Homo sapiens: one gene and its partners. The protein of the gene in region 1 interacts with the protein of each later gene in a pairwise test. Each region holds a gene or a part of one and is shown in the gene's direction. Other genes may lie near its edges. The genes, in order: AICDA, DNAJA1, TDG and DNAJA2.

Region 1 (7,600 bases):
GGCATGTGCCTGTGGTCCCAGCTACTAGGGGGCTGAGGCAGGAGAATCGTTGGAGCCCAGGAGGTCAAGGCTGCACTGAGCAGTGCTTGCGCCACTGCACTCCAGCCTGGGTGACAGGACCAGACCTTGCCTCAAAAAAATAAGAAGAAAAATTAAAAATAAATGGAAACAACTACAAAGAGCTGTTGTCCTAGATGAGCTACTTAGTTAGGCTGATATTTTGGTATTTAACTTTTAAAGTCAGGGTCTGTCACCTGCACTACATTATTAAAATATCAATTCTCAATGTATATCCACACAAAGACTGGTACGTGAATGTTCATAGTACCTTTATTCACAAAACCCCAAAGTAGAGACTATCCAAATATCCATCAACAAGTGAACAAATAAACAAAATGTGCTATATCCATGCAATGGAATACCACCCTGCAGTACAAAGAAGCTACTTGGGGATGAATCCCAAAGTCATGACGCTAAATGAAAGAGTCAGACATGAAGGAGGAGATAATGTATGCCATACGAAATTCTAGAAAATGAAAGTAACTTATAGTTACAGAAAGCAAATCAGGGCAGGCATAGAGGCTCACACCTGTAATCCCAGCACTTTGAGAGGCCACGTGGGAAGATTGCTAGAACTCAGGAGTTCAAGACCAGCCTGGGCAACACAGTGAAACTCCATTCTCCACAAAAATGGGAAAAAAAGAAAGCAAATCAGTGGTTGTCCTGTGGGGAGGGGAAGGACTGCAAAGAGGGAAGAAGCTCTGGTGGGGTGAGGGTGGTGATTCAGGTTCTGTATCCTGACTGTGGTAGCAGTTTGGGGTGTTTACATCCAAAAATATTCGTAGAATTATGCATCTTAAATGGGTGGAGTTTACTGTATGTAAATTATACCTCAATGTAAGAAAAAATAATGTGTAAGAAAACTTTCAATTCTCTTGCCAGCAAACGTTATTCAAATTCCTGAGCCCTTTACTTCGCAAATTCTCTGCACTTCTGCCCCGTACCATTAGGTGACAGCACTAGCTCCACAAATTGGATAAATGCATTTCTGGAAAAGACTAGGGACAAAATCCAGGCATCACTTGTGCTTTCATATCAACCATGCTGTACAGCTTGTGTTGCTGTCTGCAGCTGCAATGGGGACTCTTGATTTCTTTAAGGAAACTTGGGTTACCAGAGTATTTCCACAAATGCTATTCAAATTAGTGCTTATGATATGCAAGACACTGTGCTAGGAGCCAGAAAACAAAGAGGAGGAGAAATCAGTCATTATGTGGGAACAACATAGCAAGATATTTAGATCATTTTGACTAGTTAAAAAAGCAGCAGAGTACAAAATCACACATGCAATCAGTATAATCCAAATCATGTAAATATGTGCCTGTAGAAAGACTAGAGGAATAAACACAAGAATCTTAACAGTCATTGTCATTAGACACTAAGTCTAATTATTATTATTAGACACTATGATATTTGAGATTTAAAAAATCTTTAATATTTTAAAATTTAGAGCTCTTCTATTTTTCCATAGTATTCAAGTTTGACAATGATCAAGTATTACTCTTTCTTTTTTTTTTTTTTTTTTTTTTTTTGAGATGGAGTTTTGGTCTTGTTGCCCATGCTGGAGTGGAATGGCATGACCATAGCTCACTGCAACCTCCACCTCCTGGGTTCAAGCAAAGCTGTCGCCTCAGCCTCCCGGGTAGATGGGATTACAGGCGCCCACCACCACACTCGGCTAATGTTTGTATTTTTAGTAGAGATGGGGTTTCACCATGTTGGCCAGGCTGGTCTCAAACTCCTGACCTCAGAGGATCCACCTGCCTCAGCCTCCCAAAGTGCTGGGATTACAGATGTAGGCCACTGCGCCCGGCCAAGTATTGCTCTTATACATTAAAAAACAGGTGTGAGCCACTGCGCCCAGCCAGGTATTGCTCTTATACATTAAAAAATAGGCCGGTGCAGTGGCTCACGCCTGTAATCCCAGCACTTTGGGAAGCCAAGGCGGGCAGAACACCCGAGGTCAGGAGTCCAAGGCCAGCCTGGCCAAGATGGTGAAACCCCGTCTCTATTAAAAATACAAACATTACCTGGGCATGATGGTGGGCGCCTGTAATCCCAGCTACTCAGGAGGCTGAGGCAGGAGGATCCGCGGAGCCTGGCAGATCTGCCTGAGCCTGGGAGGTTGAGGCTACAGTAAGCCAAGATCATGCCAGTATACTTCAGCCTGGGCGACAAAGTGAGACCGTAACAAAAAAAAAAAAATTTAAAAAAAGAAATTTAGATCAAGATCCAACTGTAAAAAGTGGCCTAAACACCACATTAAAGAGTTTGGAGTTTATTCTGCAGGCAGAAGAGAACCATCAGGGGGTCTTCAGCATGGGAATGGCATGGTGCACCTGGTTTTTGTGAGATCATGGTGGTGACAGTGTGGGGAATGTTATTTTGGAGGGACTGGAGGCAGACAGACCGGTTAAAAGGCCAGCACAACAGATAAGGAGGAAGAAGATGAGGGCTTGGACCGAAGCAGAGAAGAGCAAACAGGGAAGGTACAAATTCAAGAAATATTGGGGGGTTTGAATCAACACATTTAGATGATTAATTAAATATGAGGACTGAGGAATAAGAAATGAGTCAAGGATGGTTCCAGGCTGCTAGGCTGCTTACCTGAGGTGGCAAAGTCGGGAGGAGTGGCAGTTTAGGACAGGGGGCAGTTGAGGAATATTGTTTTGATCATTTTGAGTTTGAGGTACAAGTTGGACACTTAGGTAAAGACTGGAGGGGAAATCTGAATATACAATTATGGGACTGAGGAACAAGTTTATTTTATTTTTTGTTTCGTTTTCTTGTTGAAGAACAAATTTAATTGTAATCCCAAGTCATCAGCATCTAGAAGACAGTGGCAGGAGGTGACTGTCTTGTGGGTAAGGGTTTGGGGTCCTTGATGAGTATCTCTCAATTGGCCTTAAATATAAGCAGGAAAAGGAGTTTATGATGGATTCCAGGCTCAGCAGGGCTCAGGAGGGCTCAGGCAGCCAGCAGAGGAAGTCAGAGCATCTTCTTTGGTTTAGCCCAAGTAATGACTTCCTTAAAAAGCTGAAGGAAAATCCAGAGTGACCAGATTATAAACTGTACTCTTGCATTTTCTCTCCCTCCTCTCACCCACAGCCTCTTGATGAACCGGAGGAAGTTTCTTTACCAATTCAAAAATGTCCGCTGGGCTAAGGGTCGGCGTGAGACCTACCTGTGCTACGTAGTGAAGAGGCGTGACAGTGCTACATCCTTTTCACTGGACTTTGGTTATCTTCGCAATAAGGTATCAATTAAAGTCGGCTTTGCAAGCAGTTTAATGGTCAACTGTGAGTGCTTTTAGAGCCACCTGCTGATGGTATTACTTCCATCCTTTTTTGGCATTTGTGTCTCTATCACATTCCTCAAATCCTTTTTTTTATTTCTTTTTCCATGTCCATGCACCCATATTAGACATGGCCCAAAATATGTGATTTAATTCCTCCCCAGTAATGCTGGGCACCCTAATACCACTCCTTCCTTCAGTGCCAAGAACAACTGCTCCCAAACTGTTTACCAGCTTTCCTCAGCATCTGAATTGCCTTTGAGATTAATTAAGCTAAAAGCATTTTTATATGGGAGAATATTATCAGCTTGTCCAAGCAAAAATTTTAAATGTGAAAAACAAATTGTGTCTTAAGCATTTTTGAAAATTAAGGAAGAAGAATTTGGGAAAAAATTAACGGTGGCTCAATTCTGTCTTCCAAATGATTTCTTTTCCCTCCTACTCACATGGGTCGTAGGCCAGTGAATACATTCAACATGGTGATCCCCAGAAAACTCAGAGAAGCCTCGGCTGATGATTAATTAAATTGATCTTTCGGCTACCCGAGAGAATTACATTTCCAAGAGACTTCTTCACCAAAATCCAGATGGGTTTACATAAACTTCTGCCCACGGGTATCTCCTCTCTCCTAACACGCTGTGACGTCTGGGCTTGGTGGAATCTCAGGGAAGCATCCGTGGGGTGGAAGGTCATCGTCTGGCTCGTTGTTTGATGGTTATATTACCATGCAATTTTCTTTGCCTACATTTGTATTGAATACATCCCAATCTCCTTCCTATTCGGTGACATGACACATTCTATTTCAGAAGGCTTTGATTTTATCAAGCACTTTCATTTACTTCTCATGGCAGTGCCTATTACTTCTCTTACAATACCCATCTGTCTGCTTTACCAAAATCTATTTCCCCTTTTCAGATCCTCCCAAATGGTCCTCATAAACTGTCCTGCCTCCACCTAGTGGTCCAGGTATATTTCCACAATGTTACATCAACAGGCACTTCTAGCCATTTTCCTTCTCAAAAGGTGCAAAAAGCAACTTCATAAACACAAATTAAATCTTCGGTGAGGTAGTGTGATGCTGCTTCCTCCCAACTCAGCGCACTTCGTCTTCCTCATTCCACAAAAACCCATAGCCTTCCTTCACTCTGCAGGACTAGTGCTGCCAAGGGTTCAGCTCTACCTACTGGTGTGCTCTTTTGAGCAAGTTGCTTAGCCTCTCTGTAACACAAGGACAATAGCTGCAAGCATCCCCAAAGATCATTGCAGGAGACAATGACTAAGGCTACCAGAGCCGCAATAAAAGTCAGTGAATTTTAGCGTGGTCCTCTCTGTCTCTCCAGAACGGCTGCCACGTGGAATTGCTCTTCCTCCGCTACATCTCGGACTGGGACCTAGACCCTGGCCGCTGCTACCGCGTCACCTGGTTCACCTCCTGGAGCCCCTGCTACGACTGTGCCCGACATGTGGCCGACTTTCTGCGAGGGAACCCCAACCTCAGTCTGAGGATCTTCACCGCGCGCCTCTACTTCTGTGAGGACCGCAAGGCTGAGCCCGAGGGGCTGCGGCGGCTGCACCGCGCCGGGGTGCAAATAGCCATCATGACCTTCAAAGGTGCGAAAGGGCCTTCCGCGCAGGCGCAGTGCAGCAGCCCGCATTCGGGATTGCGATGCGGAATGAATGAGTTAGTGGGGAAGCTCGAGGGGAAGAAGTGGGCGGGGATTCTGGTTCACCTCTGGAGCCGAAATTAAAGATTAGAAGCAGAGAAAAGAGTGAATGGCTCAGAGACAAGGCCCCGAGGAAATGAGAAAATGGGGCCAGGGTTGCTTCTTTCCCCTCGATTTGGAACCTGAACTGTCTTCTACCCCCATATCCCCGCCTTTTTTTCCTTTTTTTTTTTTTGAAGATTATTTTTACTGCTGGAATACTTTTGTAGAAAACCACGAAAGAACTTTCAAAGCCTGGGAAGGGCTGCATGAAAATTCAGTTCGTCTCTCCAGACAGCTTCGGCGCATCCTTTTGGTAAGGGGCTTCCTCGCTTTTTAAATTTTCTTTCTTTCTCTACAGTCTTTTTTGGAGTTTCGTATATTTCTTATATTTTCTTATTGTTCAATCACTCTCAGTTTTCATCTGATGAAAACTTTATTTCTCCTCCACATCAGCTTTTTCTTCTGCTGTTTCACCATTCAGAGCCCTCTGCTAAGGTTCCTTTTCCCTCCCTTTTCTTTCTTTTGTTGTTTCACATCTTTAAATTTCTGTCTCTCCCCAGGGTTGCGTTTCCTTCCTGGTCAGAATTCTTTTCTCCTTTTTTTTTTTTTTTTTTTTTTTTTTTAAACAAACAAACAAAAAACCCAAAAAAACTCTTTCCCAATTTACTTTCTTCCAACATGTTACAAAGCCATCCACTCAGTTTAGAAGACTCTCCGGCCCCACCGACCCCCAACCTCGTTTTGAAGCCATTCACTCAATTTGCTTCTCTCTTTCTCTACAGCCCCTGTATGAGGTTGATGACTTACGAGACGCATTTCGTACTTTGGGACTTTGATAGCAACTTCCAGGAATGTCACACACGATGAAATATCTCTGCTGAAGACAGTGGATAAAAAACAGTCCTTCAAGTCTTCTCTGTTTTTATTCTTCAACTCTCACTTTCTTAGAGTTTACAGAAAAAATATTTATATACGACTCTTTAAAAAGATCTATGTCTTGAAAATAGAGAAGGAACACAGGTCTGGCCAGGGACGTGCTGCAATTGGTGCAGTTTTGAATGCAACATTGTCCCCTACTGGGAATAACAGAACTGCAGGACCTGGGAGCATCCTAAAGTGTCAACGTTTTTCTATGACTTTTAGGTAGGATGAGAGCAGAAGGTAGATCCTAAAAAGCATGGTGAGAGGATCAAATGTTTTTATATCAACATCCTTTATTATTTGATTCATTTGAGTTAACAGTGGTGTTAGTGATAGATTTTTCTATTCTTTTCCCTTGACGTTTACTTTCAAGTAACACAAACTCTTCCATCAGGCCATGATCTATAGGACCTCCTAATGAGAGTATCTGGGTGATTGTGACCCCAAACCATCTCTCCAAAGCATTAATATCCAATCATGCGCTGTATGTTTTAATCAGCAGAAGCATGTTTTTATGTTTGTACAAAAGAAGATTGTTATGGGTGGGGATGGAGGTATAGACCATGCATGGTCACCTTCAAGCTACTTTAATAAAGGATCTTAAAATGGGCAGGAGGACTGTGAACAAGACACCCTAATAATGGGTTGATGTCTGAAGTAGCAAATCTTCTGGAAACGCAAACTCTTTTAAGGAAGTCCCTAATTTAGAAACACCCACAAACTTCACATATCATAATTAGCAAACAATTGGAAGGAAGTTGCTTGAATGTTGGGGAGAGGAAAATCTATTGGCTCTCGTGGGTCTCTTCATCTCAGAAATGCCAATCAGGTCAAGGTTTGCTACATTTTGTATGTGTGTGATGCTTCTCCCAAAGGTATATTAACTATATAAGAGAGTTGTGACAAAACAGAATGATAAAGCTGCGAACCGTGGCACACGCTCATAGTTCTAGCTGCTTGGGAGGTTGAGGAGGGAGGATGGCTTGAACACAGGTGTTCAAGGCCAGCCTGGGCAACATAACAAGATCCTGTCTCTCAAAAAAAAAAAAAAAAAAAAGAAAGAGAGAGGGCCGGGCGTGGTGGCTCACGCCTGTAATCCCAGCACTTTGGGAGGCCGAGCCGGGCGGATCACCTGTGGTCAGGAGTTTGAGACCAGCCTGGCCAACATGGCAAAACCCCGTCTGTACTCAAAATGCAAAAATTAGCCAGGCGTGGTAGCAGGCACCTGTAATCCCAGCTACTTGGGAGGCTGAGGCAGGAGAATCGCTTGAACCCAGGAGGTGGAGGTTGCAGTAAGCTGAGATCGTGCCGTTGCACTCCAGCCTGGGCGACAAGAGCAAGACTCTGTCTCAGAAAAAAAAAAAAAAAAGAGAGAGAGAGAGAAAGAGAACAATATTTGGGAGAGAAGGATGGGGAAGCATTGCAAGGAAATTGTGCTTTATCCAACAAAATGTAAGGAGCCAATAAGGGATCCCTATTTGTCTCTTTTGGTGTCTATTTGTCCCTAACAACTGTCTTTGACAGTGAGAAAAATATTCAGAATAACCATATCCCTGTGCCGTTATTACCTAGCAACCCTTGCAATGAAGATGAGCAGATCCACAGGAAAACTTGAATG
Region 2 (8,435 bases), on another chromosome or scaffold:
AAGGCACGCTGAGGGTGAATATGTGCGGCCGCATTCCTGGCCCTTGGCCACAGACGCTGCGTTTCTGCTAGGACCTGACACGTGCGGTGGGGGAGCTCCGCTGGCCGGAGCTGCCGGGGTGTCCGCGCCCCCGGGGCAGCTGTGATCACCCTAGCCATCCCCGCAGTTGGCGCCTCCGCCTGCGTCTGCATCCACGTCCCACATAACCGCCCTGGCTCCGACTCCTTTTCTTTGTAAACTAAAGAAAAAAGTATAGCTGTAGTTGTACTCATTCAAACCTGGACTCACCTTTTCCTTCACCCAATTTTGCTCCTACCCTGGCTTCTTCCTCCTTCTGGGCTCCCTACCCCAGGAAGGGGATCTCCAACCATCCTGTTGCTAAAGCCAGAAAGCTGGAAGTCATTCCTCCTCCCTACCTCTGCATCAAGTCATCATGACTCTACCTGAAGACTTTACATGTTTTTATATTTGTGTTTATTTTTCTCCCTCTCCATTTCTTCTATTTAGGCCTCATCATTTCTGATCTCATCGCTCACCATAAAAACCTGCTAAGAATCCAACCTTCGCATTAGCACCCAAGTGATTATTGTGAAATTTAAATGTAATCAAATCAGCTCTAAAACAAGGGTTACTGTGAGGATAACAATATGGCAACGTTTGTAGAGTGTTTAGCGCAGTGCCTGGCAGGTCCTCACAAAAGAAAGAACAGATGAGGAAAGAGAAAAGAAACAAAAAGTCAGCTGTCACAGGTTATATCACCCCATCCCTAAAATCCTCCAGTGTCTCTCAAGAGCCTTCAAAACAAAATTCAAACTTTTTAGCATAATGCCCAAGCCCTTATTACTTTGCTCCTGCCAGGCCTCCAGCCATCTCCAGCTACCTCTATGAACACTTACGGCCATGTGGTTATTGAGTTATTGGCCAGGCGTGGTGGCTCACGCCTGTAATCCCAGCACTTTGGGAGGCCGAGGCGGGCAGATCACCTGAGGTTGGGAGTTCAAGACAGCCTGGCCAACATGGAGAAACCCTGTCTCTACTAAAAAATACAAAATTAGCCAGGCGTGGTGGAACATGCCTGTAATCCCAGCTACTTGGGAAGCTGAGGCAGGAGAATCGCTTGAACCTGGGAGGCGGAGGCTGCAGTGAGCCGAGATGGCTCCATTGCACTCCAGCCTGGGCAAAAAGAGAGAAACTCTGTCTCAAAAAAAAAAAAAAAGAAAGTATGAAATATCCCACTGAAATAAAATATAATGGTAAGAAAAGAGGCCATCCATGACAGCAACAACAAAAAATGCCTAGTAACACATTTAAGAAGAAATGATGAAGACCTAGTTTAAAAAATGAAGAAAATAAATATACAGTTATATGTTCATGAGTAGGAAGATTCGACATTTTAAATGTGTTAATTCTCTCCAAACTGATATATAAAATCACTGTAATCACAATAAAACTCACAATGGGATTTGGGGGGAATCTGCCAGAAATATTCCTAAGTTCCTCTGGAAGAATAAACATATTAAAAAAAATACAAGGAATATTCTAAAAAGCAAGAACAATGAAGGGAAGTAGTACCATGTATTTCAGTGGAAATTAAGTATACATTAAAAGTGGTGGCCAGGTGTGGTGGCTCACGCCTATAATACCAGCACTTTGGGACACCAAGGCAGGACAACTGCTTGAGCCCAGGAGTTCAAGAACAGCCTGGGCAACATAGGAAGACCCTATCTCTGCACATACAAAAAAAAGGTTGGGGGGCGGATTTCACATTAGTCAGGAAAAATAAGATTAGTGTTAGACAAACTAGTTTGCCATTTGGAGAAAAATAAAGATCAGTTACTTACAAATAATCCTCAGTCCTTACACCAAAATAACTTTCAGATGGAATAAAAAATTTAAGTTTAAAATGGAACAATGATTCCAGATGCAGTGGCAGGTGTCTGTAGTCCCAAGTACTGAAGAGGCTGAGGCAGGAGAATCACTTGAGCCTAGGAGTTCGAGGCCAGCCTGGGCAACACATCAAGGCTGTTAATTTAAAAAAAAAAAAAAAAAAGGGAAACAATGAAAGTACTAGACCTAACCTGTAAACCTGGGACAACAGATTTATATTTATAATGCTGGACTGATGAAGGGGAAGGTGGAGAGAAGAAAAAGGCCAAAAAGGAAGAGTCACAATTTATCTACATAAAAATTAAAATCTTTATATGGCCGAAAAATATATATATAGATACTAAGTAAAAAGCGAAGAATATACTAAAGAAAACAATTGTAACACATGACAGACTAATATCTACCCCTAAAAGGGCTATTATTAAAATAGTGGAATTACACCACAGAAAAATGGTAAAATAATATGAACAGTTGACAGGAGAGTCAGTAAACATTTAAAACATGGTTAAACTTACTAACAAAGAAACTCGAAACAATAAGATATCACTTTTTATCTCCAAGCTTAGCAAAGATTTAACAACAAAAGGCCCTCATATTGGCAAGGCCCACTCACACACTGCTGGAAGCAGTTACAAACCAGTATGGAAACTTATTTATTACAATTTTAAATCTACATTCATGTTGACTCAGCAATTTCAATTCTAGCTGTCCATCCAACAGAAATACTTGCATGAGTACTCAAAGCTGTATTTGCTAATTTCTCTGCAGCAGTTTGTAAAACACTGGAAATTGCTGAAATATTCATCAGTAGGGGAATAAATTACGGTGCCTACATACTACGCCATTAAAAATAACAAGGCAGATTAGTTATTTATCCTGGCATAGTAAGATGACAAAGTGAAAAGGGCAAGCTGTAAACAGCTTGTATAATGATCCCATTTCTGTACAAACGAAGACCACATACAAAGTTATTGCCAGTTTTTTTATTTTATTTTACGTAAGAATGCTTCTTAAAAGTGTTAACTTTTTTGTTAGTTTCGTTTTTAGACAGGGTATTGCTCTGTCGTCCAGGCTGAGGTTCAGTGGTGCAATCACCACTCACTGCAGCCTTGACCTCCCAGGTCCATCCTCCTGCCTCAGCCTCCCAAGTAGCTGGGAGTACAGGCCCACACCACCACACTAACTCTAATTTTTGTAGAAACGAGGTCTTATTATGTTGCTCAGGCTGGTCTCAAACTCCGGGACTCAAGGGATCCGCCTGCCTTGGCCTCCCAAAGTGCTGGGATTACAGGCTTGAGCCACCATGCACCCCCTACTCTTCCTTTATTAGCATTTAACACTCAACTGTTTGTTTCTGGTTCCCTATGTTGTGAGCTCCTTGAAGGCAGGGACCACGACTTATGTGATTTTTTTTTTTTTCTGAGACTCGACAGAGTCTTGCTCTGTCAACCAGGCTGGAGTATAGCGGCACCATCTCTGCTCACTGCAACCTCCGCCTCCCAGGTTCAAGCGATTCTCCTGCCACAGCCTCCTGAGAAGGTGGGACTACAGGCACGTGCCACCATACCTGGCTAATTGTTTCTATTTTTAGTAGAGAAGGGTTTCACCAAGTTGGCCAGGCTGGTCTAGAACTCCGGATCTCAGGTGATCCGCCACCTTGGCCTCCCAAAGTGCTGGGATTACAGGTGTGAGGCACGGCGCCCGGCCTGACTTACGTGATTTTTGTATTACAAAGCCCTAGTACACTGCCTGGTAATATTAGACGTTTATTAACGGTTGGTTTAAACAAAAAACTTTATACCAGAGGTGATACTTGAGAAGGCAACACCTAAGATTGAAAAAAATCAGGTGTCTGTCAGCCAATGCAAAAGCATACAAAGGTGAAAAGGCGTATATGGGAAACTGCGGATAGTTCTGTGACTGGAATGCACAGTTAAAATTAATGAAAGAGAAAAGGCTGAAGAGGCAGCATGAGGATGCTTCCAAGGATAAAGTTCAAAATTCTTAGCGTAGCATATATACCAACAGACAAAGGCATGCCCTAACTAGCTTTGAAGCCTCACCTCCGGCTATTCTAGCTCCCTTAGCTATGGCTATATCCAATTAGTTGCAATTTCCTAAAAACATCATATTCTTCCACACCTTAGTATAGCCTTCCCCTGTGCTTTGTCCACTGCTCTCCTCCCATTTTCAAAACTCAGCTCAATTGCCACTTTCCCAAAGAAATTCTCTCTGATCTATCAGGTTAATATAGGAGGCTCTCCCCTACTGACTTCTACCTCATGGTTTCTCTGGCAGTCTGTTGACTTGTTTGGCTTCTCACTAAAGTCTAACTGGGGCTTTTCAACTCTGCATCTCCAGTTCTGTTTTTGTTTTAAATCGAGACGGGGTTTCACCATGTTGCTTGGGCTGGTATCAAACTTCTGAGCTCACGCAATCAGCCCACGCTGGCGTCCCAAAGTGCTGGGATTACACACGTGAGCCACCGAGCGTGGCAAACTCCATCTTTCTTGGTGCTAGATACTGACATACCTGCTGTGTCCCTGGATAAAGAAGCGGACCCCAATTCCCATTAAGCCCCCGTGGTACCATTTTCAAGTCCGAGGTCTTACGTTGCAGATTGTACATCCAGGTTCCCTGACCCGTAGGATTTAAAAGTGAGGTCAAATAATTAAACAAATTGTTTTAGTCAGACACTCTTGCGGCTACTCTGTAGCCAAACTGGGTGAAAACCTGACCAGAGGAGTCCACGGCCCTCTGTACATCAAAGACGGTCCAAACGTCTCACTGTTTAGCTCAGTCCCAGACACACTGAGCTCAATCTGCACGAATCAGCGAGGTCCAGGGCAGATAACATGTGTCTAGGGGCCTGGACTTGCACAAAAAGCCTTAACAACTTCACAATTTGATTAATTATGCCGCCTTGGACCACGCGTGAAAAACAGCAAGACCCAAGGCCTATGCTATTGGTCTGGGGACTAGACCCACCTGGCTCAAGCATTTTTTGCTCGCCACGTTCCCAAAAAGAGAAGAGGCGCCCGTAAGAGGGGGGGGGGGGGGGGCAAGACTGTTCCAAGAGCTTTCCCGTTCACACACAGCTCCCGCTGGGTCACTGTACTCGAGCCCTTCCCGCCCTCGCGGGCCCAGGCGGCCACCCCACAGGTTTGGGAACCCTAGGACTTGCAGTGCTCCTGGGCCATGCCCCACCAGCCGGAGACTTCCGCACTCTCAGGCTCGCTGAGTGGAGAAAAGGGCTCCAGAAGATTCCACGAGCGCCGGGAAGCCGCGCTAGCACCAACACCCACAAGGCCTTTCGGCGCAGCTCCTCCCGACCCGTGCGCCCCCGCGCCGTTGCCCAGGTAACGGCGGGGCGGTGGCAGCGGCCGAGAAGGGCGGGACTTCCGGCGGGTGACGCGCCCGGGTTCGGCTACAAAAGAGGACGGCTGCGGCGCGCCGGGCGGAACTTTCCAGAACGCTCGGTGAGAGGCGGAGGAGCGGTAACTACCCCGGCTGCGCACAGCTCGGCGCTCCTTCCCGCTCCCTCACACACCGGCCTCAGCCCGCACCGGTGAGTTTGAGCCCTCGCGCTGCCCCTAGTCCCCTGGCTGGCGCCATTGGCGCCGGGAAACCGATGGAGCCGCGGTCGGGAGGCAGTTGGCCGCGTGGGTAGGACCGCTGTCAGTTCCTGGGCCCACGATTTCCCTTTTGGAGGGCTGGTGTGGTGCCCTGGCAACCCATCCCCGGCACGCACAGTGAATGGGCCCGAGACCTTTCCTAGACCTCCCTCCTTCCCCAGCCTGGGATCTCCAAGGAGCTACTGTCTTCGGCTGCCCCTCCGTGCGCGCCCCCGCGGCCCCCCTCCCCGTCCGTGCTCGCTCGGGGTGGGGGGGGGGAGTGGGGTTGGCGACCCTGCGCACGCGCACAGGGAGGCAGGGGCGAGGGGCTGCGGGGGGAGCCGGGCGGAGACTGCGGCTTTTGGTTTCGCTTTCTCTGTTTCCCCTCCCTTTGTTTGTTGAGGGCTGGGCTTTCCCCACCGCCACTTGGGTCCAGGGTGGGAGGGAGAAAGGAAGGAAATCGGTCAGCGCCAAGTGCAAGGGGAAACCTGGCAGGTAAACTCTGCCAGCCTGAGGGGCGAGAGGGATTCGGCTGGAGAAGCTGTAAGCCGTGGGCGGTGGAGGGCTTGCTGTGTGGAGCCAGTAACCTGTTCTATAAACCACTCCCCCCCACCACTGTGTGCCCAGACGTCTTTTTCTGGAGAGTATATGGAGTTTATCAGATTTGCCAAAGACAGTGATAGTGTAATGACCGGTAGACTGAACATATCAGTGCTTCTTTTGGTTACAACTGTCACCGCCTCTAGGGCAAACGGGAAGAATCCAGATAATAGTTGTGTTATATTAGTATGGAAGCTTTGGTGTAGGAAAATTGGAACCAGCTGCTAGAAGGCGGCTCTCAGATTATTTCCCGATAATGATTATTTGTTTTGTCTGTTCGAGTTTATAGCTGAATTATCGCAGGAATTGTTACCTTTTTGGTGAAATTTAGGGAAGGTGGTGTTCTTATAATCGGATTTTGCAAAGAGATTGCTCGGCCTTAGCTCTCTTTTTTATTAAAAGCTACCAGTTGAAAGCCGGTTAAAGTTGCATTTTCTTATTTCAGGCAGTAGAAGATGGTGAAAGAAACAACTTACTACGATGTTTTGGGGGTCAAACCCAATGCTACTCAGGAAGAATTGAAAAAGGCTTATAGGAAACTGGCTTTGAAGTACCATCCTGATAAGAACCCAAATGAAGGAGAGAAGGTGAATAGTATCTACTCTTAAACGTATCTGAATAGTTCTTTGCCAGACGTATAGTATTTCTATTATGGCCTGAAATCGAGTATCTAATATAGTAACTATGATCACTTCTCGGCCTTTTTAGCTAAGATCAAGTGTAATGTAGCTAGGTAACACTTGTTTTTTAAAAAATGAAATTCACTCCTCTTTTCTCAAACAGTTTAAACAGATTTCTCAAGCTTACGAAGTTCTCTCTGATGCAAAGAAAAGGGAATTATATGACAAAGGAGGAGAACAGGCAATTAAAGAGGGTGGAGCAGGTGGCGGTTTTGGCTCCCCCATGGACATCTTTGATATGTTTTTTGGAGGAGGAGGAAGGATGCAGAGAGAAAGGAGAGGTAAGAAGAATCTAGTCTTTGTGCAGCTAACTAAAGTTAGCTGTTGGTCAGAGCAGATCTTTGAGAAATCACCCATTTTAAATGCTTGTTTACATGTTGGTATAATGTTGCAAACTGACCACAAATTGCCTCTGATTTATGGTGTCGTGTTTTTTTGTTGTGGTTTTTTTTTTTTTTTTCTTGAGACGGAGTTTCCCTCTTATTGCCCAGGCTGGAGAGCCATGGCGTGGTCTCAGCTCACAGCAACCTCCACCTCCCGGGTTCAAGCGATTCTCCTGCCTCAGCCTCCCAAGTAGCTGGGATTACAGGCATGTGCCACCAAACCCGGCTAATTTTGTATTTTTAGTAGAGATGGGGTTTCACCATGTTGGTCACGCTGGTCTTGAACTGCAAACCTCAGGTGGTGATCCACCTGCCTTGGCCTCCCAGAGTGCTGGGATTACAGGTGTGAGCCACCATGCCCAGCCAGTGGTGTCGCTTTTTTTAAAATGAGATTTAAGGGGCCTAAAAAATAGCCAACAGAGTGGTAGCAAATGACTGCTTCCAAAAATCTTAGATATTATCAAACAAATTATGAGAACAGGCCGCGTGCTGTGGCTCATTCTGTAATCCCAGCACTTTGGGAGGCCGAGGTGGGTGGATCACTGAGGTCAGGGTTCGAGACCAGCCTGGCCAAGATGGTGAAACCCCATCTCTACAAAACTACAGAATTAGCTGGGCGTGGTGGTGGGCATCTGCAATCCCAGCTCCTCTGGAGGCTGAGGCAGGAGAATCGCTTGAACCCTGGAGGCAGAGGTTGCAGCGAACGGAGGTCACGCCACTGCACTCCAGCCTGGGCAACAAGAGTGAATCTCTGTCACAAAAAACCCAAAAAAATCCAAAAATTAGCCAGGCATGGTGGTGCGTGCCTGTAATCCCAGTTACTCAGGAGGGCTGAAGCAGGAGAGTCGCTTGAACCCGGGAGGTGGAGGTTGCAGTGAGCTGAGATCGCCCAATTACACTCCAGCCTGAGCAACACAGCGAGACTCTTGTCTCAAAAAAAAAAAAAAAAAAAAAAAAAGACAAAGTATATAGCAATATAATTTTCCAAGCCCTTTTTACAGATCTTATTTGGTGTTCCCTCACTCCCCAAAGGAATTTGATGGTAGGTACAGTGGCCTTTTTCAAATGGGAGTAAGTTAAAGTTCAGAAACCTAAAACTTCTTCAAGCTCATATAGCAAGCCAACAGAGCCAGGGCTGAAAACTGGTTCGTTGCCTGCCATCTATCTATTCTTGTTTCAGCTTTATTGTGTCAAAATTATGTATTTAATATGTTTATCAGGAAAGTGGCCTATGGGCTCTAGAAATACTGCTTATAGGAGTAAAATGTTCA
Region 3 (7,000 bases), about 95 Mb from region 1:
GGCTGGTTATAAACTCCTGACCTCAGGTGATCTACCCTCCTCGGCCTCCCAAAGTGCTGGGTTTACAGGTGTGAGCCACTGTGCCCGGCCTTGTCACCTCATAAAGGTCCTACCTCTCAACACTTGCATTGGGGATTTAGTTTTCAACACGTGAACTTTGGGGGACACATTCAAACCATAGCAGTGGCAAAAAAAAAAAGCCCTAGCCCCAACAAAACAAAAATACCACCATCAATAAAAATCAAATATAGGCCTGGGTGCAGTGGCTCACATCTGTAATCCTAGCACTTGGGGAAACTGAGATGGGCAGATCTCTTGAGCTCAGAAGTTCAAGACCAGCCTGGCCAACATGGCAAAACCCTGTCTAGACAAAAATTACAAAAATTAGCCAGGCATTGGGGCTCGCTCCTGTAGTCCCAGCTACTTGGGAGGCTGAGGTGGGAGGATCACTTGAGATCTCCCACCTCAGAAGTAACAGTGAACCAAGATCACACTACTGCACTCCAACCTGGGTGACAGAGGGAGACCCTGTCTCCCCACACACACACACACACACACACACACAAACTAATGAAAAAATAAGTAAACAGGCAAATAAAAATAAACTAAAAGAGAATCTTAATTAGATTGGAGGGGATCTTCAGGTGATTAAATACTGAAGGAAAGTAGGGGCACAAATTGTATTTGGGGACATCTTAACCCTGTATGGGTTGATAGACCTTTCAAGTCTGTCTACTAGAAAACTCCCTCAAATCTTATTTCAGAGAAAGTATGGGCTGACTTGACAGGACTGATCAGTTTTATCAGTGACACATCTTATCATTTAAACAGTGCAAGAGTTAATGGTTGGTTATTAAGCACTCAGTAAAGGTTGGTGAACATGTACATACAGGACTAGATCTCTCCTCTGTAATCCACTCTAAATAAATACTTCAGTCTGGTTACAAAATACTTAATACTGTACTGAAGATTTTTGTACAGCTGATCATTTGGATTTACATTTGGGTAATTTTATCATTACATCTCATGCTTCATTATTCTTTCAGCTATTCCCTTCAGCAAGCTCAAGCTTTTTATACGTTTCCATTTCAACAACTGATGGCTGAAGCTCCTAATATGGCAGTTGTGAATGAACAGCAAATGCCAGAAGAAGTTCCAGCCCCAGCTCCTGCTCAGGAACCAGTGCAAGGTAGTTTCACCATGAGAGCTTAGAAAGTTCAACATCGGATCAGCCAGCTTATTTGAGAAAGGGTTTCATGGTGAATTTTAGCTCTATTTTAGTGTTAAAAAGTCAAATCCACTTTTTAAGTACTTAGTATGTGCTAAGCACTGATAGGTTCTGGGGAATAAAAGAACATGGGTCCTGCCCAAAAATATCTCATAATCTAGTAGAGAAAAGTAATAAGTAAATACACGTTACAGCTCAGCACAGTTTGTAGTGAAGAGGGGCATAGAATGAATGCCCTGAAAGCTTATGGGGTTGGCTTCTAACTCAGACTGATGGCTCAGAGGCTGCTTCCCAGAGCAGAGAAATAACACCAGGGCTCTGAAACTCCAACAATGTGGAGGCTTCATCCCGATAAAGATCAGAGTAGGGACATGTCCAGGCTGAGGGAGCTATACAGGCTGGGTACAGACACACACAAGCATGGCATGGCCAGAAACAGAGCAATTCTGTGTCCTTGGAGTCTGGGATATAACAAGGAAATGGTGAGAGGTGAGGCTGGATGGGGACAGTTGAAACTTGTTTTTTAATCCCAAAGAATTTATATTCTATCATGAAGGCAATAGGGAGCTGTTGAGAGAATGTAAGCAAGGGATGACTTACTTGACTGGTGCTTTACAAATTAGCCTGGAAATATTAGAGAAGATAGATTGGTTGGTAGACAACAAGTCGGAACTTGGAGGCAGGCCGGGCACAGTGGCTCATACCTGTAATCCCTGCACTTTGGAAGGCTGAGGCGGGTAGATCACCTGAGGTCAGGAGTTCATGACCAGCCTGGCGAACATGGCAAAACCCTGCCTCACACAAATTAGCCGGGCATGGTGGCGCACACCTGTGATTCCAGCTACTGGGGAGGCTGAGGCACGAGAATTGCTTGAATCCTGGAGGCGGAGGCTGAGAGGCTGCAGTGAGCCAAGATTGCACCACTGCACTCCAGCTGGGCAATAGTGCGAGACTCTGTCTCAAAAACAAAAACAAAAACAAAAACAAAAACAAAACTTGGAGTCAAGGAGTGGATTAGATGGATTAGAGACACTGTTTGAATAATCTAGGGGAGCACTGAGGAGGACCTGAAGGGGTGGAGAAAGAATTAGGAAACACTTAGGAGGTAGAATTACCTAGCCATGGCTAATGGGTTTCATGTGTTTGGGGGGAGCATGGCAGGATAGTGGGGGAGAAAGGGGAGTCCAGAAGTAACTACCAGGTTTCTGGCATTGGCATTTGGTTGGAGGAGGTGCCACTCACCAAGACAGAGAATTAGAAGAAAATAATAGGTTCCAGGGGTGGGAGAGTGGTTGGAGAGAAGTTAATGATTTTCTCCAGTGTAACAGTATTTTATGAGAAATGTGCTCAGGGTTTTGGTTTATGATTGCAGGAACACATCTAATAACTCTGCCTCCGCATTAGGACTTCCCCAGCTACATGCCAGTGATGGTGGATCTGTTGGCATAGGGAGTGGCTAAGACAATGTGAGGCAGAAGAGAGGAGGGACTGACTGCCTGTATCCTGCGAGGCTTGATTGGGGAAACGCCAAAGAGGAGTAGAATAGGGTAGAAGCCTGAGTAGTTAGGAGAAATGTTAAATAATTAAGGGTAAGAAAATCAGGGCTTCCTGTTGGGTAACTATAGGTCAGTGGTTTTCAATCAAGGGTGATTTTGCCCTCCCAAGGGACATTTGACATTGTCTGAAGACACTTTTGATGATCAAGACTGGCAGGTTACTACTGGCATCTAGTGGGTAGAGATCAGGGGTGCTATTAAACATTCTGTAATGTGCAGTACAGCCACCCACAACAAAAAATTATGCAACCTAAAATGTCAATAGTGTGGAGGCTGAGAAACTGCTTTACGTCCTGAGGTTGGATCCCTCCTCTTGCCTTTTGAAAAATACTGCCAGCCCAGAGATGTCATCCTGGGCACCCCTAAATTCCCCTCTTCAACTATGTATGGAACAGAATATACACCTCATCTCTAAAACAAGCCCACAAGCCATTGTGTTTTTCTTTTTTCTTTCTTTTTTTTTTTTGGACAGAGTCTTGCTCTGTTGCCCAGGCTGGAATGCAGAGGCATGATCTCAGCTCACTGCAACCTCCACCTCTTGGGTTCAAGCAATTCTCCTGCCTCAGCTTCCCGAGTAGTTGGAATTACAGGTGCACGACACCATGCCTGGCTAATTTTTGTATTTTTAGTAAAGACGGGGGTTTCACCATGTTGGCCAGGCTGGTCTTGAACTCCTGACGTCAGGTGATCTGCCTGCCTTGGCCTCCCAAAGTGCTGGGATTACAGACATGAGCCACCATACCTGGCCCATTTGTGGTTTTCTACTGGGGAAGTTGAGTTAAAATGTTTCCCTTCCTTCCTGTTTCTCTATTTTTCTGTTCTTATTTAATTATTTATGTATTTACATTTAGAATTTATATAAAATGATATGTAGATACTTTGTATCCTTGAGGAGGTTAAGATGCCAAGTAATACTGTGTCGAAAATAATAGTCTATGATTATTCTTCCCACGAACAGCTAGCAGGGGAAGGAGAGTGGCATGGGGGGTTGCACGAACCCAGTTCTAGGGAGAAAGAAAGGGAAGATATTGCAGAGGAGACTCATGTTGGGACTGTAAGAGCTTAATTTTGGGGAGACAGGTACAAAAGGTGCTAGTTGGGTAACTTTTCTGGGAAAGCTGCTAAAGTTTCTAAGTTAAGATTTTCTGCATTTCTGGAAATTATTTGTATTTCAGAGGCTCCAAAAGGAAGAAAAAGAAAACCCAGAACAACAGAACCAAAACAACCAGTGGAACCCAAAAAACCTGTTGAGTCAAAAAAATCTGGCAAGTCTGCAAAATCAAAAGAAAAACAAGAAAAAATTACAGACACATTTAAAGTAAAAAGAAAAGTAGACCGTTTTAATGGTGTTTCAGAAGCTGAACTTCTGACCAAGACTCTCCCCGATATTTTGACCTTCAATCTGGACATTGTCATTGTAAGATCTTTGTCCTCGTTGGATTTTATAAGTAGTATTGGGGGATCAGCTTTACTTAACAGTTGTCCTTGCAAATAGCATTTTGCTGAAAAGGACCATTTCTAAGAATCCTTTTGGTGGTAAATGGTGTCAGCTTCATGAGGTTGTGTTATATGAGAGTGTTTAAGAGGGTGGGCTCCAAATTTAGACTGTCTGGGTTCAAATCCTGTCACAAGTATAATCTTGGATAAGTCTTATTAACCTTTCTAAACACCGGTTTTCTCATTGATAAACCAGGGGTGATAATACCACCCCCCGATAGGGTTGCAAGTAAATGAGAGAATCCATGTGAATCACTTCAACTGAATGATGCCTGTGGAGACCTGATACATGGCAGCACTAATTTTAAGCTCTTATTTTTCTCAGTAACTGTAAGAAACATCAGCATGTGAACAATTGTGTAGGTGATGTGGAGCGAGCTTCTTGTTGAAAGTTGAGAATCAGAATTGTGGCTGGACATGGGCTCAGATTGATTGTTCCAGGACCTGTCTTTCCAGACTCAAAGCAGCCCAGTTGGTGAGGGTGCGAGGCCTGGGATCATAAAGGAGTCAAACTGGTTTTTTAAAATAACAGCAAAACTTTTAAAATAAAGAAAATCTCTTTCCCATATATGAAATACTTTGTTCAGATCAAGAGTAGTAATTGATAAATGATATTGCTTATGATGCTGAATTAAATTTGTATTTTAATCAACTCAATTTTGTCCACCACTCCTCCATAGAAACGCTAAGGCTTAGGTCCTGCTTTTTAAGATGAAATGTCTAATTGTTTTGTTTTATAGATTGGCATAAACCCGGGACTAATGGCTGCTTACAAAGGGCATCATTACCCTGGACCTGGAAACCATTTTTGTAAGTGGTTACCTTTTAAATTAATTTACTTTTAAATTAGGTATCTTTGTTAACAGGTTTTTTCAGAAAAACCAATTGTGTTTTTAAAAAGAAAGAGACTGTAAATACACATTCGTGTTTCATGTTCTGTGTGTGTGTCTGTACGTGAAAATAAGAGAGTTTGAAATGATATGTTACTGTTAACATTTTAGTCTATGAGAATGGAGGGATGTGAATAAGAGTACTTTCTCTTTTGTTTGAATTGTTTCTAATGAGTTGTACTACTTTTTTTTTTTTTTTTTTTTTTTTTTGAGATGGAGTTTCGCTCTTTTTGCGCAGACTGGAGTGCAATGGCGCGATCTCGGCTCACCACAATCTCCACCTCCCAGGTTCAAGTGATTCTCCTGCCTCAGCCTCCCTAGTAGCTGGGATTACAGGCATGTACCACCACGCCTGGTTAATTTTGTATTTTTAGTAGAGACGGGGTGTCTCCATGTTGGTCAGGCTGGTCTCGAACTCCCGGCCTCAGGTGATCTGCCCACCTCAGCCTCCCAAAGTGCTGGGATTACAGGCGTGAGCTACAACGCCCAGCCAAGTTGTATTACTTTTTAAAAATGATTTTTTAAAAGTTGTTATCTATAGGCATAGTAACGATAGTATAGTACATCTTTGTGGCAGTGCAGACATAATACTAACTTTCCCAGATTTCTGGTGATTATTTTCTAGCAGAGCATAAAATAGTAGTAAAGACTCATATTTTTAGAGTAAGTTTTAAAACCAAGTGTTGGCTGGATCTGGTGGCTCACACCTGTAATCCCAACACTTTGGGAGGCCAAAGCAGGAGGATCACTTGAGGCCAGGAGTTTGAGACTAGCCTGTACAACATACCAAGATCTCATTTCTACAAAAAAATAAATAAAAAATTAGCTGAGTGCTGTGGTGCACACCTGTAGTTCCAGCTACTACGGAGGCTGGGTTGGGAAAATTGCTTGAGCCTGAGAGGTTGAGGCTGCAGTTAGCCATAATTACTCCACTGCACTCCAGCCTAGGTGACAGAACTAGACCCTGTATCACAAAAACAAACAAGAAAACAAACAAAAAACAAGCGTAACTACTGTTGCATTGCCTTCTCTATATAAGTTGTCTTGTATATAAATCATCTTATTTTATACTGCCTAATAGATCAGTGTATGCAGTATACGCTCAGGAAATTGATTATCTAATAGTAACATTCAAAACATTTAGGGCAACTGATAGTAATGTGGTTTTGGAACTAATAATAACATATTGTCCCTATTATTTTAAAAAATTCCTTTTTAAGGGAAGTTTGGACTTTTGACTTTCTTCACTGTCAAGGTGTTTGAATGTTGTTAGTCTAGTGCTGTATGTTTACGTGTGAGGTGGTGGTATCACCAATTGTAAAGCAAAATAGTCTCAAAGTTTCCTAAACTGAGTTGCTATATATTCTTGGGCAGGCATTTGCCTCAACCCCCTGTGAAAAGGAGATAATAATAGTATCTTGCAAGATAATTATGATGATTAAATCCAAGCGCTGTGGCTCACACCTGTAATCCCAGCAATTTTGGAGGCTGAGGTGGGAAGATCACTTGAGCCCAGGAATTCAAGACCAGCCTGGGCAACATGGTGAAACCCTGTCTACAAACAATACAAAAATTAGCTGGGCGTGGTGGTGTGCATCTGGGGTTCCAGCCACTCAGGAGGCTGAAGTGGGAGGATTGCTTGAGCCTCGGTGGTCGAGGCTGCACTGAGCCATGATCGTGCCACTACACTCTAGCCTGGGTGACAGAGCGAGACCCTGTCTAAAAAAAAATAAATAACTGAATTTTCATTTTACAGGGAAGTGTTTGTTTATGTCAGGGCTCAGTGAGGTCCAGCTGAACCATATGGATGATCACACTCTACCAGGGAA
Region 4 (7,600 bases), on another chromosome or scaffold:
CACCCGGCTAATTTTGTATTTTTAGAAGAGATGGGGTTTCTCCATGTTGGTCATGCTGGTCTCGAACTCCCAACCTCAGGTGATCTGCCTGCCTCGGCCTCCCAAAGTGCTGGGATTACAGGCGTGAGCCACTGTGCCCGACCTTTTTTTTTTTTTTTTTTTTTTTTTTGAAATGGAGTCCCTGTCGCCCGGGTTGGAGTGCAGTGGCACCATCTAGGCTCACTGCATCCCCCTCCTCTCAGGTTCAAGAAGTTCTCCTGCCTCAGCCCCCCAAGTAGCTGGGATTACAGGCACCCGCACCATGCCCGGCTAATTTTTGTATTTTTTAGTAGAGACAGGGTTTCGCCATGTTGGCCAAGCTGGTCTTGAACTCAAGTGATCTTCCTGCCTCATCCTCCCAAAGTGCTGGGATTACAGGCATAAGCCACTGCGCCCAGCCTATTTTCTTTGAAGTATATGAATCTTCCAAGTTACCTTTTATTTAAAAACTAAAAATGAGTGACTGTCTGCCTACTTTGTGTACATGTTAGAGTCACTCATTACTTGATCCTCAGTGTGAACTCTTCTGAGTTGGTTTCCATGGAGCTTGCTGGCTTCCAGCCTGACCTTAACCTGCCAACACATGAATGGTGCCTGACCTTGGTCTTAGACTGTGAATCCACAAGCCCTCTCCAGTATGAAAATAGCTGTTTCACTTTGCAAAATCTGGGAGGTCTTTTTTCCCATTCTTTTTTTCATGGACCAATAAATGATTTTATTAGCAAATGTCAGTGGCCGAAGTTCAGGTACTTATTTAAAATATTTCATAATATCCTAGTTTATACACTTGAGTAAATTAGAGGAAGTCATGTTATCTGTTAACTTTGAGTCTCATTGAATCCTTAAATTTGTTTTTTAAAAGAATTTACCCTCAGAAATTAACATTTGGATACCATTCCAATGGTAATATTTGTGCAGTGCAGGTTAATTCGTTTATATTTTTCTTTAATATAGAAATGGTCTAAAAAGAAAATAGGGTCAAAAGAGTGCTGTCTGTACTTTATAGTTCTTCATGTTTAAAAAAAAGTTATGCTATATAGTGAAAGTTTTCTGCTGTTTTAACATTTCAGATTTTCCTGTTATTACAAATACTATGTTTATAATACTGCATTCTATGATTTATTTACCTTTTATATAGGGTATTCCCAGGTTTTTTCTCTGTAATAGATACTGCTGCTATGAGTATCTTTATGTAGAGCTTTGTTTCTCCTTGGCAGAGATTCCCAGGCAGGCATGAGTGTTTTGAGGCTGATAAATACAACTAAATTGCCTTGCAGAGGGATTGTGCCAGTTTAGGCCCCACTAGTGGAGAGTGCCAGCCTTGCCAAACCATTACCTGCATTTTTCCTTCCTTGGCCTTCTTTGTTGAGATGTGTATTTTTCTCTGGCTTAGGATACTGGTTGTGCATACCAATTGTAATTTAATATGTAGGGGAAGAAAGCCGATTTTCTTTAAATGATTTGTTATGCAGAGTATACAAGATGCAACAAGCGTTTTGGTCTAAAGCTCAGCTGTTGATAGGTCATTATTTGACAGTGTTGTTGGTAATGTTTTGTCCATACGTGTGGTATTCTTATCCTGCCTACAACAGTTTTAAGTTTCTGAGAATAACAATTTTAAGAAAGTTTGAATATCACAAAATAGTATAGGTGCTTTGTAAAATACTTTAAACTATTTTTTTGTTCCTCTAACTCCCAGGATTTTAAAGCAGATCATTACGGGATGACCATTACTAATCTGAAATCTGAAATGCTCCAAAATATGAAACTTTTTGAGCACCATCATGATGCCACAAGTAGAAAACTCCACACATAAGTACTTGTCTCACTCTGTCCCCCAGGCTGGAGTGCAGTGGTACGATCTCAGCTCACTGCAGCCTCAATCTCCAGGGCTTAAGCAATTCCCCTGCCTCAGCCTCCTGGGTAGCTGGGACTTCAGACATGCCACTACACCTGGCTAATTATTTTTTATTTTTTGGTAAAGATGAGGTCTCTCTAAGTTGCTCAGGCTGGTCTTGAACTCTGGGCTCAAGCAATCCTCCCTCCTCAGTCTCCCGAAGTGCTGGGATTATAGGCATGAGCCACTGCACCTGGCATGAAAAACTATTCTATCCCTCCTTTCTGTCATACTATAGGTAGGGCCACTTTTATTTTTTTTAAGACATATGCCATCTAAGTGACTCCCTTAAGCCGAAATATAACTTTGTAGCCTTTCTAAATTGTCCATGGAGGAAACAGGGACTCTGGAGCCAGATACCTATGTGATCTTGGGCAAGTTACTTGACTGTTCTGTGCCTCAGTTTTATCACATAAAATGGGAATAATAATTGTACCTCTTCTGAAGGGTTTTTATTAGGAGTTAGGTGGAGGGCTTATGCCTCAGAACAGAAGGTTGTGATATTTGAGTTTGCGAAGTCATCAGCTTTATCAGAAATTCCACCACAGCAAATTGTTGGCCTGATGCTATAGGCTCTGGCTTTGGGTATCATATATGTACTGTCTGTAGTCATAAAATATTTCTGTTAATTTGAGCCATAATATAAGCCTCAGTTTAATTGATTTAATGTGAGATTATGAGGTGTTTTTGAATTCTGTTTTAAAAGTTGATAACGAATTTGCTGTATCAGCTGTTACTTATATCTTGTATTTGACAAAATGTGGCAAAATTTGATTGAAGCCGATTCTTTTCTTTCCAGAGTATCTTTAGAAGATCTGTATAATGGCAAGACAACCAAACTACAACTTAGCAAGAATGTGCTCTGTAGTGCATGCAGTGGGTAAGTGTGTCTTCTGGTTTATTGGGTACATTTTGTCTGTTCTTTTAAGTATCACACTGAATGTCTGTACCACGTAAAAATTGTTATAAGTTAAAACTTACGGCTGGGTGCGGTGGCTCACACCTGAAATCCCAGCACTTTGGGAGGCCGAGTCGGGTGGATCACCTGAGGTAGGAGAATCGCTTGAACCCGAGAGGTGAAGGTTGCAGTGAACCAAGATTGCGCCACTGCACTCCAGCCTGGGTGACAGAGTGAGACTCCATCTCAATAAATAAGTAAAAAAATCTTAGCAGAATGTTTTCTGATACTTCTGGAAGTCAATTTAAATACAAGTTATTGGGGTTGAAGATGAAGGTAAAAGCACAATTTCTGTGTGTCATAGCTTATTGGAGTGGTTTGTGGACAAAAACCTAATGCATAACTTGTGCTTGCTTTAGCCAAGGCGGAAAGTCTGGAGCTGTCCAAAAGTGTAGTGCTTGTCGAGGTCGAGGTGTGCGCATCATGATCAGACAGCTGGCTCCAGGGATGGTACAACAGATGCAGTCTGTGTGCTCTGATTGTAATGGAGAAGGTATGTGTGCCAGTACTTCTCTGCTTTTATGTTGGAATGGATTGGGAATGCAGATATTGGAGAGGTTTACAATTTTTTATTTCAAAGGGTATTTGTATACATCTTATTAAAGAAAAAGGAGGCCGGGTGCGTTAGCTCATTCCTATAATTCCAGCACTTTGGGAGACAGAGGTGGATTGCTCGAGCCCAGGAGTTTGAGGCCAGCTTGGGCAATATAGGGAGACCTCATTACTATAGGAAAAAAAAGTGTGGAAAAATATGTAATGAGGGGCTCAGGGCATGTCTGTGGTCCCAGCTGCGTGGGAGGCTGAGGCGGGAGGATTGCTTGAGCCCAGGAGTTCGAGGGAGCAGTGATCTGTGATCATACCAGTGCACTTCAGCCAGGGTGACAGAACAAGACCCTGTTGCAAAAAATAAAAGATAAAAGTGTGAAAGTAATTACTCCATTATGCCTAAGCCCAGTGAACATAGAGAAACAGTAGATTTGTATTGTGTTAGTGAAAGGTGACTCTTTTTAATTCAGAAAAGAGGAGCAAGGTGATTATTTGTCCCTTTGCTATTTCCTTCTTTATCAAATATAACCTTTTATTTACTCTCTCTGTAGGAATGACCACCATAGGAGGACTATCTCCTTTATCACATAGAACCTTTTAAACTACAAAGGGACAAATAATCAAATAATAAATAACTAAACAAGTAGTTGTTTAGTTATTCTGATAAGTGGAAGATTTCACTGTAACCTTTAGTTAGCTTTTCAGAATTGATCTTGAGATTGAAGCTGTCCTTACAGAAGTAAATAATTTAGTCTTTGTGGGCCAAATAGTTTTTGTCACAACTACTCATCTCTGACCTTTTAGTGCTTTTATGGCCACAGACACATGGATATGGCTGTGTTCTGATTAAAATTTTAATTATAAAAACACATAGCTCCTCCCACCCCTGCCATTCTAGAGCAGTGCTATCCAATAGAATTTTTTTCTGTGATGATGGAAATGTTCTGTATCTGCAGTGTCCAGTACAGTAGCCATTAATCACCTGTGACTACTGCATATTTCACATGTGGCTAGTGTGACTGGAGAACTATTTTAAATTTGAATTAATTTAAACATAAACAAGTAGCTACAGGTTGATAGTGGCTACCATATTTGACAGTATAGTTCAATAGCATCCTTTTCCAAATTGCTATTGGAAGTGATGAGATAATTATGAGAAGTTACATATGATATTTCCTTCCTGGAGAGTCTTGGCATTTTACTTTATTTTTTTAAATTATTATTATTTTTGGAGATAGGGTCTTGCTGTCGCCTGGGCTGGAGTGCAGTGGCACACTCTCGGCTCACCGCAGCCTCCACCGCCCACGCTGAAGCAATCCTTCCACCTCAGCCCCTCGCCCCACAATTAGCTGAGACCATAGGTGCTTGCCACCACGCCCAGCTAATTTTTGTATTTCTTGTAGAGATGGGGTTTTGCCACGTTGCCCAGGCTGGTCTCGAACTCCTGGGTTCAAGTAATTCTCCTGCCCCAGCCTCCCAAAGGGCTGGGATTACAGGTGTTAGCCACCACTCTTGGCCTGCTTTTATTTTATTATAATTGCTAACTCCCACTATCAAGAAACCAAAGTTAACTGAAATCTTTCTCATGTACCATTACATTTTTCTTTTTTCTTTTTTTTTTTTTTTTGTGAGACGGAGTCTTGCTCTGTTGCCCAGGCTAGAGTGCAGTTGCGTGATCTCAGCTCACCGAAGCCTCTGCCTCCCTGGTTCAAGTGATTCTGCTGCCTCGGCCTCCTGAGTAGCTGGGATTACAGGCGCCTGCCACCACGCCCGGCTGATTTTTGTATTTTCAGTGGAGACGGGGTTTTGCCGTGTTGGCCAGGCTGGTCTCAAACTCCTGACCTCAGGTGATCCTCCCGCCTTCGCCTCCCAAAGGGCTGGGATTACAGGTGTGAGCCACCATGCCCGGCCACTATTACCATTTTGAAGAACGTGTTTTGCAGAACATACTTTGCACAAGTACTGTTACAGAAACAGTCCCTAAATAATCAGTTATACACTTCTTTCTAAGCCTTCAAATGTGCTGGTAATTAGCCATTAGAAAGTGACGCAGTTTTTTCACACTATAATATGTATAATCACGGTTTTGCTTTTTAATACCATAATTATAAGAGAAAAGCTGTGTTGCCCTAAACATGGTATGGATACATTACATTCTGAAATAGTGGGAAGCTGAGTCCTTCAGGCAGTCTGCAGTAGTAAGATGTAAGTTTTTGTTATTCAGAATAGTGCTTTTTTTTGTTTTGTTTTGAGACATGGCCTCACACTGTCACCCAGACTGGGGTGCAGTGGCATGATTATAACTAACTGCAGCCTCGAACTCCAGCAGTCCTCCCTCCTCAGCCTCCCCAGTAGCCAGGATTACAGGTGTGCACTACCACGCCGGCTAACTTTTTTTATTTGTAGTAGAGGCAAGGTCTCACTGTGTTGCTAGGCTGGTCTCAGATCCTGAGCTCAAGTGATCCTACCACCCTGACCTCGCAAAATGCTGGGATTGCAGGCTTGAGCCACTGTGCTTGGCCTCAGAATGCTGCTTTGAATAAAAATTTAGGTAGTGATTAAAAGAAGTCCAGAAAGCATATTTAAAGAATAAGGGTATTAAGAGTACAGTATAGTACTCTTGCTGAAAGTTTCAATGACTTCTCTTTCCAGGAGAGGTAATTAATGAAAAAGACCGCTGTAAAAAATGTGAAGGGAAGAAGGTGATTAAAGAAGTCAAGATTCTTGAAGTCCACGTAGACAAAGGCATGAAACATGGACAGAGAATTACATTCACTGGGGAAGCAGACCAGGCCCCAGGAGTGGAACCCGGAGACATTGTTCTTTTGCTACAGGAGAAAGAACATGAGGTGATTTTCCTTTTTTTAGTTTTTTGTATTTTGTTTTATTCAGAAGTACTTCTTGCTTGTGAGAAATAGGTTAGATCTGTTTGGAGTCCCTGGAGCAACACTGAACACTGGTGAAGTTAAGGGCATCATGGTGAGTTCCTAAGACGGGCTTGTGTAAGAAAGACTAACAAGGCAGGTGCAGTTAGAAGCACTGTAAGAGTCAGTTTTAGTCCTGGCTTGGTTTCTTCCCCCTGCCCCTCAGTTGGAGTTTCACTCTTGTTGCCCAGGCTGGAGTGCAATGGTGCGATCTCGGCTCACTACAACCTCTGCCTCCCGGGTTCAAGTGATTCTCCTGCCTCAGCCTCCCGAGTAGTTGGGACTACAGGCATGCTTCTTCACTCCTGGCTAATTTTTATTTTTAGTAGAGACAGGCTTTCTCCATGTTGGTCAGGCTGGTCTCAAGCTCCCAACCTCAGGTGATCTGCCTGCCTCAGCCTCCCAAAGTGCTGGGATTAAAAGCGGGAGCCACCGCGCCTGGCCTTGGTCTTTTTTGTGTGTGTGTGACGGAGTCTTGCTTTGTTACCCAGGCTGGAATGCAGTGGCACGATCTTGGCTCACTGCAGCCTCCACCTCCCAGGTTCAAGCGATTCTCCTCTGGCCTGGTCATTGACTAACACTTTAACCATAGGTAATCTTACTGTCTCAGTTTCTTTGTTTATGAAAATAAGGGCACTGGGTGTTGGACCAGTTGATCTAAGGCAGCCTGTATTTTCACTGTGAAACTCTGCTGCTCTGTCGATTTGGTTTTTACTTATTGGGTACCCAAGTGAGCTATCCTTGAAAGGGTTCTGGGATTTTTTTTAAAAAAAATATTTTTTTAGAAGCTTCTGAAGAATGTGGTCACTAGTGTATGTTTTGGGGGGTTTTTGTTTTTGAGATGGTCTTGCTCTGTCGCCCTGGCTGGAGTACAGTGGTGTGATCTGGGATCACTGCAACCTTCGCCCCTGGGCCCAAGCAATCCTCCCATCTCAGCCTCCCAAGTAGCTGGGACAACTGGTGCACCATCATGCCCATCTATTTTTTTGTTTGTTTGTTTTTTGGGGTTTTTTTTTTTTTTGTATTTTTAGTAGAGACAGGGTCTTGCCATATTGCCCAGGCTGGTTTTGAACTTCTGAGCTCAAGCGATCCTCCTGTCTCAACTTCCCAAAGTGCTGGGATTACAGGTGTGAGCCACAGTGCCCAGCCTAGTGTATGTTATTTTGATTTTAACATTGCACTTGTATATTTTTAATGTCCATATTGTATACTGTAGACCCTACTCAAAGAATAAAT

Evidence for each region.
Region 2: the proteins of AICDA (region 1) and DNAJA1 interact in binary tests that used the Homo sapiens proteins (3 or more experiments, as listed by UniProt).
Region 3: the proteins of AICDA (region 1) and TDG interact in binary tests that used the Homo sapiens proteins (3 or more experiments, as listed by UniProt).
Region 4: the proteins of AICDA (region 1) and DNAJA2 interact in binary tests that used the Homo sapiens proteins (3 or more experiments, as listed by UniProt).

What each region holds. Positions count from the first base shown.
Region 1 is NC_000012.12:8,602,581-8,610,180, reverse strand, and holds part of AICDA (single-stranded DNA cytosine deaminase), read left to right. Parts: intron 1-3,168; coding exon 3,169-3,316; intron 3,317-4,695; coding exon 4,696-4,966; intron 4,967-5,258; coding exon 5,259-5,374; intron 5,375-5,843; coding exon 5,844-5,897; 3' UTR 5,898-7,600. UniProt on the Homo sapiens protein: Single-stranded DNA-specific cytidine deaminase. Involved in somatic hypermutation (SHM), gene conversion, and class-switch recombination (CSR) in B-lymphocytes by deaminating C to U during transcription of Ig-variable (V) and Ig-switch (S) region DNA.
Region 2 is NC_000009.12:33,019,929-33,028,363, forward strand, and holds the start of DNAJA1 (dnaJ homolog subfamily A member 1), read left to right. Parts: upstream 1-5,344; 5' UTR 5,345-5,455; intron 5,456-6,546; 5' UTR 6,547-6,556; coding exon 6,557-6,688; intron 6,689-6,884; coding exon 6,885-7,062; intron 7,063-8,435.
Region 3 is NC_000012.12:103,975,872-103,982,871, forward strand, and holds part of TDG (G/T mismatch-specific thymine DNA glycosylase), read left to right. Parts: intron 1-1,046; coding exon 1,047-1,189; intron 1,190-3,959; coding exon 3,960-4,201; intron 4,202-4,283; exon of another isoform or gene 4,284-4,756; intron 4,757-5,021; coding exon 5,022-5,091; intron 5,092-6,927; coding exon 6,928-7,000. UniProt on the Homo sapiens protein: DNA glycosylase that plays a key role in active DNA demethylation: specifically recognizes and binds 5-formylcytosine (5fC) and 5-carboxylcytosine (5caC) in the context of CpG sites and mediates their excision through base-excision repair (BER) to install an unmethylated cytosine.
Region 4 is NC_000016.10:46,963,300-46,970,899, reverse strand, and holds part of DNAJA2 (dnaJ homolog subfamily A member 2), read left to right. Parts: intron 1-2,735; coding exon 2,736-2,816; intron 2,817-3,253; coding exon 3,254-3,387; intron 3,388-6,092; coding exon 6,093-6,289; intron 6,290-7,600. UniProt on the Homo sapiens protein: Co-chaperone of Hsc70. Stimulates ATP hydrolysis and the folding of unfolded proteins mediated by HSPA1A/B (in vitro).